3 linked regions of the Homo sapiens genome follow. The protein of the gene in region 1 purifies or fractionates together with the protein of each later gene. This does not show direct contact. Each region holds a gene or a part of one and is shown on either strand. Other genes may lie near its edges.

Evidence for each region.
Region 2: the proteins of GNA12 (region 1) and ARHGEF28 purify together in Homo sapiens (affinity purification with western blotting, with the first as the bait; one study listed by BioGRID). This does not show direct contact.
Region 3: the proteins of GNA12 (region 1) and F2R purify together in Homo sapiens (affinity purification with western blotting, with the first as the bait; one study listed by BioGRID). This does not show direct contact.

What each region holds. Positions count from the first base shown.
Region 1 is NC_000007.14:2,834,205-2,837,860, forward strand, and holds part of GNA12 (guanine nucleotide-binding protein subunit alpha-12), read right to left. Parts: intron 1-3,656. UniProt on the Homo sapiens protein: Guanine nucleotide-binding proteins (G proteins) are involved as modulators or transducers in various transmembrane signaling systems. Activates effector molecule RhoA by binding and activating RhoGEFs (ARHGEF12/LARG).
Region 2 is NC_000005.10:73,912,645-73,916,300, forward strand, and holds part of ARHGEF28 (rho guanine nucleotide exchange factor 28), read left to right. Parts: intron 1-3,656. UniProt on the Homo sapiens protein: Functions as a RHOA-specific guanine nucleotide exchange factor regulating signaling pathways downstream of integrins and growth factor receptors. Functions in axonal branching, synapse formation and dendritic morphogenesis.
Region 3 is NC_000005.10:76,733,004-76,736,304, forward strand, and holds the end of F2R (proteinase-activated receptor 1 isoform 1 precursor), read left to right. Parts: coding exon 1-500; 3' UTR 501-2,767; downstream 2,768-3,301. UniProt on the Homo sapiens protein: High affinity receptor that binds the activated thrombin, leading to calcium release from intracellular stores.

The sequences.
Region 1 (3,656 bases):
GAATTTTCTGTCTTAGCTGATAAATGTAGAGGCATTAAGATGGTTCTCATTTGTGTATTCTTCTCCACTTGCTGAAATCCTACAAAACCTTCAAAGGCCAGCTCAAATCACAATTCAATAAGGCTTTTTTAGATACCTCAGCCAGAATTAATCTTCCCACTGGCCTCCTGCAACACCTCTCCAGTGGCATTTACCATGGTATCCATTCACGCTGTATGTTAAAGTTACTTGTGCAACTGTCTCCCCAGCTTGAGAGTGCGAGTGGAGAGTAGGGGCTCTGCAATATGCACTGAATATCCCTTCTGCATCAGCACCTAGCACAATGCCGTGGAGATTTTGTTGAACTTGATCTTTTTGTTTCAGTGGCAACAAGAGACCACCCACTCTAATCATCTAATTCTTCAAAAAGTTTCTAAAATCAGCCAAACAGTCACGCACTGCATAATGATGTTTTGGTAAAAGATGAACCACATATACGATGGTGGTCCCATAAGGTTATAACACCAGATTTTTACAGCACGTTTTCTATGTTTAGATACATAAATGCTTGCCATTGTGCTACAATGGCCCACAGTATTCAGTATAGTAACATGCGGTACAGGTTTGCAGTCTGGGAGCAATAGGCCTAGGTATACGGTCAGCTATATTATCTAGGTTTGTGTAGGTCCACTCTAGGATGTTTGCGTAAGAACCTCACCTAACGATGCATTTCCTGGACGGGATCCCAGTCGTTAAGCAATGCGTGACTATGCATCGCGATGCATGACTATACATTGCGATGCGTGACTATACATCTGCATATAAGACAAGTCTACCTTGGGGTGGCTAAAGGCTACACTAATGCAATCATGTGGATGGTTAGGACTTCTAGTCTATATAACAAGGAACCTTCAGACAGCTAACATTTTATCCACTTCTAACTGGATGTGAAATTTAGTAATGAAAACGCTCTTGGGATTTAACGCATCACACATAAGTCAGGGAATGGAAGCACTGTGAGATAAATCTAAGCTGGCCTGATGTCTTCCAACAGCCTGAGGCACACCCCACCACCAGAGGCATTATTACACAACTTCGGGAACACCAAATACACAAACTTTAAGGACAGCCCAGTCAGGAAGTGACGAGATATCATCTGTAGAATTAGAAAAATAAAAAGAATAAACTAGGCTGTTCCCCACACCCCCATTGATGTTGGCCCACGGGGGTTGCCGGTCCCTTTAACTGGCATGTACCAAGTCCTTCCAGGTGACATTTCCTCCCTGTGTCCCAGCTTTTAGGGATCATTGGCCATGGGTCCAAGGGGAGGGAATGTGGAGACAGGGTTGTATTTGCCAGGGAATTCTGGGCCGACAGGGAGCAAGAGCGCGCTTGGGGGCAAAGTCCCATTGTCTCATGCTGTTCTCCAGTCCCGAGATGGTGGCCACCATGAAGAAGACGGCTGCAGAAGATGTCAATGTTACTTTCGAAGAGCAACAAAAGATAAACAAATTTGCATGGAATACAAGTAGAATCACAGAGCTGAAGGAAGAAATAGAAGTAAAACAGAAACAACTCCAAAACGTAGAAGATGCTCGTGACGGTACCATGCTTGCAGATGCTGACTGCTTAATGATGCCTTATCAAATCGGTGATGTCTTCATTAGCCATTCTCAAGAAGAAACACAGGAAATGTTAGAAGCAGCAAATAAAAATTTGCAAGAAGCAACTGACGCCTTAGAATCCAAAGTCGAAGCAATTCAGTGGGTGTGAGCAGATTTGAAAGTTCAGTTGTATGCAAAATTTGGGAGCAGCATAAACCTTGAAGCTGATGAAAGTTAAACATTTTATAATACTTAAAAAAATTTGTTTAATAAACTTGATTATTGTTTAAGAAAAAAAGAATAAACTAGAAAGTCTTACTGGCAATCTTTACAAAAAAATCAAAGCAACTAGTAGATTCAAATAATGAACTGCAGAGGATAGAGTGAGGTAATGAAGTCCTCGCACTATCTAACAGAAATCCTATGTGCAAATTCAGGCACAACTGTGATCAAGATGGAAAAGCCCCAGACACTGAGTAAAAAGACCAGGATGATGGAGACTTCCACAAAGTAACAGCTCTACTCCTCCCAGGTCTGCCCCCTTACAGCTAAAAAGAAAGTTCTGAATGTAACACAACCAGCAAGTGCAGAAAGCAGGTGGAAAGAAGGCGGCAGGCTACCCAGCGACCTCAGGACTTGAGGGATGACAAGGCAGTGAGTTCTCTGGGTGTCCTTACTGCCTCCTACTTACCCAGGATGGGCGCTGCAGAAGCCTCCAAGCTGGAACAGCCAAAAGGTACAGAGAAAAAGAACTCCAAGAAGAGCCTGTTCTTGGCCAAAGGACCCAGAAAAGGATGCTCTTACAACAGCAGACCTTTTTGGCAATGCCCGTCCTATTCCAAATAACAAGAGAAGGCCAGGTGCGGTGGCCCACACCTGTAATCCCAGCACTTTGGGAGGCCGAGGCGGGTGGATCACCTGAGGTCAGGAGTTCGAGACCAGCCTGGCCAACATGGTGAAGTCCCATTTCTACTAAAAATACAAAAATTAGCTGGGCATGGTGGTGCGTGCCTGTAGTCCCAGCTACTTGGGAGGCTGAGGCAGGAGAATCGCTTGAACCTGGGTGGCGGAGGTTGCAGTGAGCCAGGATTGCGCCACTGCACTCCAGCCCGGGCAACAAGAGCGAAACTCCATCTCAACAACAACAAAAAACAAATACAAGAGAAAACATCAGCAGAGAAACCACATATACCACCCACTGAGGTTTCAGTGGAATTGAGGGGGAAATTGATCTTCTACCCTCAAGGAACCAGGTGACATGCTCCAAGTGGCATGTCAAATAGTGCTGGCAGGGCCAAGCAGGGATCTCACCTCCCATTCTCTGCCTGGAAGAAGCAGGAGGTGCTCCAATTCCCTCACCAGGGTGGTGTCAGCAGGGCCCAGTGGGGAAGTGCACCCCCACCACGAGGCAGAAAGAGGGGATGGGAGGGTGGGAGGGGGGAAGGCTGGATTAGCTGTCGCTTTGCTACCCCCTCCCATTCCCTAGAATCAGCAACGCCCAGAGGGGAGCTGATGTTCCAACCCCACTCAACAAGGCCACAGGGTCTCAGAGACCCGGAGGTCATTAACAAAAGTGCTAACAGCCGTATGTCAGAGTCCCAGAAGGAGATGAGAGAGAGGGACTGAAATAGTCATTCAAGAAATAATGGCTGAAAACTTCCCACATTTGGCAAGAGACATAAATGTACAGATTCAAGAAGCCAAGCAAACCCCAAATATAATAAATGGGATGAAGCCTGTGCCAAGACAAATCATAATGAAACTTCTGAAAACTAAACATAAAACTCTTCAAAGCAGCCAGAGAGGAGCAATGCATGAACTCGGAGAGGAGACCAACTCAAACGACAGTAGATTTCTCTTCTGAAACAATGTGAAGGTATCCTTCAGGAATGAAGAGGAAATACAGGCATTCTTGGACAAAGGAAAGCTAAGAGAATCTGTTGCAAGCAAACTGATCGTTAAAGAATGGCTAAAGGAAGTTCTCTAAACAGAAAGGAAATGACAACAGAAGAAGGCTTAGAGCCTCAGAAAGAAGACCATCAGAATAGGTAATAAAAAAAAAAGGGACAATTT
Region 2 (3,656 bases), on another chromosome or scaffold:
ATGAAATAGTTTTTTAAAGTATTATTTCAGATATTCTTTAGGTAAAGAAAAAATATGATGGAATCGTTCAGATTAAATAAAAGGTCAAGCCAAATTTTGAAAAATGTAACTTCTTTAATATATTATCTTACAACTTTACTACAATAGAGAGCAGATTGCAGAATTCTTTTTCTAAGCACATGTTGCTTTGCTGTGTTGGTTCATTAATCTGCTATTTACAGTGCTTCATGTGGTTTTGTCAGCATGGTTTTACATACTGGCTTTGGTATAATTCCGAAACTCAGTTTGAGTTAAACCACATTCAGCTTTTGTTTAAAAGAAGCATGTCTCTTACTTTTTGTGTATCTCCCATCTTTTTCTATTGACTTGTGCTTCAAAGTAAAACTTTTTAAACCATTTGGCAGCATACTTGCAGTAGATAGAAAATGTACTAAGGAAATAAACAGTGATTATATACAAAACCAGTCTATCCACATGTAAGGAATTAGAGCCAAAGGAAATGCTGAGAAATGTACTTACGCTTAAGAAATTGTATGTCCAGAGTAGGCCAAGGACGCTCAGGACATTGACAGGAGAGAAGAAAGTCAACTGTGGCTTAAATCTCTCAGGAACATCCTGGTTTATATAAGTAGGGATTACATCAGAAATGCTGTGTGTACTGTTCACCACTGGAGTTTTGCAGCTAGTCAAAAAACCTTATTTATGTTTACTTCATGATAAGCAATTTCTACAGGGGAGAAAAGAAAGTCAGAGAATAGGCGGTGATAAGAAAGTGGATTGAGAATAGGATATATACACTTAAAAGAGTGGTCAAGGCTAGATAAAATTATTCAAACCCTCCAGAGCTTTCACAGCTTTTATCATTGACAGTAACACAACATCAGCCACTGGTGATGGCCTTAGCTAGGCTCCGTGGGCGCTTGCCACACATGATCTTGGGGGACAGTGACTGCGGGGGGCCGGACAGGAAGAAGCAGGCTCCAGGGTGTGCTGGGTGGTAACAGCTGATGTGCCAGAACCAAGGACCAGGCAGTGTTGTTGTCCCCTCTTCTGTGTTTTGCTGCTGAATCTGGGTGAGTGGCCATCAGTGACCACTACTGAGGATCTCCATAGTTCACTGTAATCTGGCTAACATAATTTGCCTATAATGTTGTGGGCTGGTATTTTAGCTAAATGTGTACTTAACCATGATTTCATTCAGGCTTCAGTCACTCTTTCATTGTTAGGCCATAACGTCTGCCGTTCCAGGTAACATCTTAAAGAATGGTTTGCCCTTTTGCCTAGTCTGGTACTGTGGATAGATGATCAGCTCAGATCAGTGAAAATGTGAATTTCTGGAACAGTAAGGCTGATGGGAAAAATTGTATATAAAAACAATTCTCCAATGTGTTTAGATACCACCTAGATAGGAATTTCTGTTGGTTTTTTCAGTACAGCCTCAGCAGACATTTTTGTGCTCTAATTGTGATTGGTTTCTGAATTGCTCTACCCCCACCCCTGCCACCAGTAATTATATGACACATCAAATTTCAGGCACTGTGCTAAGGTTTTACATGGGGAAACTCATTTAATACTCACAACAACCCACTGAGATGGTTCTGTCCTTTGAGAGGGGCAGCTGGGATACAGAAAGGTCAAGTAACTTGTCCAGATCACATAGCTAGTAAATTGAACCTGGGAATTGAACCTGGGAAGATTGGCTTTAGAGCCCATGCTGTCAATCATTACACTATACATTCTGAATTGCTTTTTTTTTTTTTTTTTTTTTTTGAGAAGGAGTCTCTCTTTGTCGCCCAGGCTGGAGTGCAGTGGTAATATCTTGGCTCACTGCAACCTCCACCTCCCGAGTTCAGGTGATTCTCCTGCCTCAGCCTCCTGAGTAGCTGGGATTACAGGTGCCCGCCATCACACCTGGCTGATTTTTGTATTTTCAGTAGAGACGGAGTTTCGCCAAGTTGTCCAGGCTGGTCTCGAACTCCTGACCTCAAGTAATCCACTGGCCTTGGCCTCCCAAAGTGTTGGGATTACAGGCTTAAGGCACCACACCCGGGCTAAATTATTAATTTCTAGAAAGCTGTTTTGAGCTGTACTTTTTTTGAGATTGAGAGTCTCACTCTGTCGCCCAGGTTGGAGTTCAGTGGCGTGATTTTCAATCACTGCAACCTCCACCTCCTGGGCTCCATCCACCTCCTGGACTCACTGCAACCTCCCACTTCAGCCTCCTGAGTAGATGGGACTACAGACTTGCACTATGCCCAGCTAATTTTTGGCTTTTTTGTAGAGACGGGGTTTCCCCATATTGCCCAGGCGGGTCTTGAACTCCTGGACTGAAGCGATTGGCTGTTTCAGCCTCCCAAAGTGCTGGGATTATAGGCATGAGCCACAGTGCCCAGCCATGAGTTGTACTTTTTAAAGAAGTTGGTTTAGATATAGAACTAATCTAATCCTTTTGTAATGCCTAGTGGGATGTTCATGATTAAGGACCAGGTTTTTGTTTTTATTGGTTTTTTTTTCTCCCCTCCTTCCCTTTTTAATAGTAACATTTGGAAAATATTTCTAAATGTTTTGGATTACTGTGGCCAACTCTTGCATGGGGCCTGAACATTTTCAGTATCATAAATACTCTTTAGCTTTACTTTTTTCTCATAAGGGATATTTTCTTAAAAATATTTTGTTTCTCCAATGTTGCCTAATAATAAACCCATGTTATCTGTAAATATTTTTTAAGATAGAACTTTAAAGAACTTTACTTTCCAGTTTTGGAAGTTATTTCATGAACAAAATTCTTGGATGTTCAAACATTAAATCCAAATTGATATTTTATTTGTAGTGGAAGAGATGGTTGGCTTAAGAACTTTTTCTGTACTCCTCTATGGGACACCAGCCAAGACTACAGAATATTTGAATTTCCTTAAACAATAGTCTCTGTGGGACAATTGCTATGTAATCGGCCCTATGAGATGCTCAACAGCATTACTCTGAAAGGCAAAAACAAAGAAACAACAATAAAAAAACCCAACATTTTATTCTTGTGGCTTTTTTTCTCCTAGCTTTAACATTTTAGAACTATATATTGAATGCATCTATATGTTATTTGCCTTTTTCATTAACAGAGGAAACATCTTATGGTATAAAAATCTGAAATCCTAATCTCCCTTTTCAGTTGTATTTTTCTGTATGCCTCAATATTTGCAGGTTTCCCAAAAGTTCTCTTCAGTTCAGTTAAAGCATTATGATTTTGTTATGCATAGGCTAAAATGTAAGTCAAGCCAAATTTTATGTTAATAATATAGATACTGGGAAAAAAGTAACTTGATTAAGTTTGAGTTCTCTTTCCTTTTACTACATATTAGAATTTGGTGCCAAGGAAACTATTTTCAAAATTCAAAGCATTGTATTTAGAATACCTCATCTTGATAATTTTTTTTTAAAAGACAGCTGTGTTAAACTTTGACAAGTTTTTTATGTAAGGGAAGAAAATAGAAAATTTCCAAATGAAAACCTATGCCATACTTAGTATTTAAATAAGTCTTAAGAAGTGAGAGGATGATAATTTCTCATGTTTTAAAATATTTCATAATTCAGAAATTGACACCTTACTTGTGTAATCTATATGGAAAGAAGCTTTGCCCAAAGAACTTTAGGCAATTTTCCTG
Region 3 (3,301 bases), on another chromosome or scaffold:
AAACCCTGCTCGAAGGCTACTATGCCTACTACTTCTCAGCCTTCTCTGCTGTCTTCTTTTTTGTGCCGCTGATCATTTCCACGGTCTGTTATGTGTCTATCATTCGATGTCTTAGCTCTTCCGCAGTTGCCAACCGCAGCAAGAAGTCCCGGGCTTTGTTCCTGTCAGCTGCTGTTTTCTGCATCTTCATCATTTGCTTCGGACCCACAAACGTCCTCCTGATTGCGCATTACTCATTCCTTTCTCACACTTCCACCACAGAGGCTGCCTACTTTGCCTACCTCCTCTGTGTCTGTGTCAGCAGCATAAGCTGCTGCATCGACCCCCTAATTTACTATTACGCTTCCTCTGAGTGCCAGAGGTACGTCTACAGTATCTTATGCTGCAAAGAAAGTTCCGATCCCAGCAGTTATAACAGCAGTGGGCAGTTGATGGCAAGTAAAATGGATACCTGCTCTAGTAACCTGAATAACAGCATATACAAAAAGCTGTTAACTTAGGAAAAGGGACTGCTGGGAGGTTAAAAAGAAAAGTTTATAAAAGTGAATAACCTGAGGATTCTATTAGTCCCCACCCAAACTTTATTGATTCACCTCCTAAAACAACAGATGTACGACTTGCATACCTGCTTTTTATGGGAGCTGTCAAGCATGTATTTTTGTCAATTACCAGAAAGATAACAGGACGAGATGACGGTGTTATTCCAAGGGAATATTGCCAATGCTACAGTAATAAATGAATGTCACTTCTGGATATAGCTAGGTGACATATACATACTTACATGTGTGTATATGTAGATGTATGCACACACATATATTATTTGCAGTGCAGTATAGAATAGGCACTTTAAAACACTCTTTCCCCGCACCCCAGCAATTATGAAAATAATCTCTGATTCCCTGATTTAATATGCAAAGTCTAGGTTGGTAGAGTTTAGCCCTGAACATTTCATGGTGTTCATCAACAGTGAGAGACTCCATAGTTTGGGCTTGTACCACTTTTGCAAATAAGTGTATTTTGAAATTGTTTGACGGCAAGGTTTAAGTTATTAAGAGGTAAGACTTAGTACTATCTGTGCGTAGAAGTTCTAGTGTTTTCAATTTTAAACATATCCAAGTTTGAATTCCTAAAATTATGGAAACAGATGAAAAGCCTCTGTTTTGATATGGGTAGTATTTTTTACATTTTACACACTGTACACATAAGCCAAAACTGAGCATAAGTCCTCTAGTGAATGTAGGCTGGCTTTCAGAGTAGGCTATTCCTGAGAGCTGCATGTGTCCGCCCCCGATGGAGGACTCCAGGCAGCAGACACATGCCAGGGCCATGTCAGACACAGATTGGCCAGAAACCTTCCTGCTGAGCCTCACAGCAGTGAGACTGGGGCCACTACATTTGCTCCATCCTCCTGGGATTGGCTGTGAACTGATCATGTTTATGAGAAACTGGCAAAGCAGAATGTGATATCCTAGGAGGTAATGACCATGAAAGACTTCTCTACCCATCTTAAAAACAACGAAAGAAGGCATGGACTTCTGGATGCCCATCCACTGGGTGTAAACACATCTAGTAGTTGTTCTGAAATGTCAGTTCTGATATGGAAGCACCCATTATGCGCTGTGGCCACTCCAATAGGTGCTGAGTGTACAGAGTGGAATAAGACAGAGACCTGCCCTCAAGAGCAAAGTAGATCATGCATAGAGTGTGATGTATGTGTAATAAATATGTTTCACACAAACAAGGCCTGTCAGCTAAAGAAGTTTGAACATTTGGGTTACTATTTCTTGTGGTTATAACTTAATGAAAACAATGCAGTACAGGACATATATTTTTTAAAATAAGTCTGATTTAATTGGGCACTATTTATTTACAAATGTTTTGCTCAATAGATTGCTCAAATCAGGTTTTCTTTTAAGAATCAATCATGTCAGTCTGCTTAGAAATAACAGAAGAAAATAGAATTGACATTGAAATCTAGGAAAATTATTCTATAATTTCCATTTACTTAAGACTTAATGAGACTTTAAAAGCATTTTTTAACCTCCTAAGTATCAAGTATAGAAAATCTTCATGGAATTCACAAAGTAATTTGGAAATTAGGTTGAAACATATCTCTTATCTTACGAAAAAATGGTAGCATTTTAAACAAAATAGAAAGTTGCAAGGCAAATGTTTATTTAAAAGAGCAGGCCAGGCGCGGTGGCTCACGCCTGTAATCCCAGCACTTTGGGAGGCTGAGGCGGGTGGATCACGAGGTCAGGAGATCGAGACCATCCTGGCTAACACGGTGAAACCCGTCTCTACTAAAAATGCAAAAAAAATTAGCCGGGCGTGGTGGCAGGCACCTGTAGTCCCAGCTACTCGGGAGGCTGAGGCAGGAGACTGGCGTGAACCCAGGAGGCGGACCTTGTAGTGAGCCGAGATCGCGCCACTGTGCTCCAGCCTGGGCAACAGAGCAAGACTCCATCTCAAAAAATAAAAATAAATAAAAAATAAAAAAATAAAAGAGCAAACTATTTCCAAATACCATAGAATAACTTACATAAAAGTAATATAACTGTATTGTAAGTAGAAGCTAGCACTGGTTTTATTAATTTAGTGACTATTCATTTTATCTAAATCAGTGAAGATTTACTGTCATTGTTTATTAGTCTGTATATATTAAAATATGATATCATTAATGTACTTACAAAATAGTATGTCACTGTTTTTATGTTCATTCTTAAAAACATAACCTGTATTAATAAATGTGAACATTTGCTTGGTATCTCTTTGGAACAAATTAGTATTATATCTTTCTGGTCCTGGCACACTTTAAGGGTTTAACTGAAGAGCATTTAATGAAGAGGTGATTTACAAAGGTGTAGACAGGGTTAAGGGAACCAACGGGGACTGGTGAAGCACCCCCCAGAGACTAGCAATCAGGGGAAGCCATTACTGCCAAGGCCCAGGTACAGGAGGGAACACACTGACGCCTCTCCCTCACCCTCTGATCTCTTGGGAGGCCTCCCCTTGATCCTAATCTTAACCCAATACCCAGAGTGAAGTAGTCCATAAAGATCAGCTTCCTTTGCCGTGGAGAAGGGATCTGGAAGAACAAATGCAAGGAAAAAATAAAACAAACAGCACCATTTCTGCCAAAGACATTGAGTGATTAGCTCTCTCTCTCTCTCTCAATCCCTTCTTAAGAAAATTTAAGCTTATTGAGAATATATTCAAATTTCTGAGTTATAGACATCATGGGTAGTGTCTGCAGTTCTTCCCTAGTGAGAGAGAAATTAAATGTCAGAGCAGAAAGGAA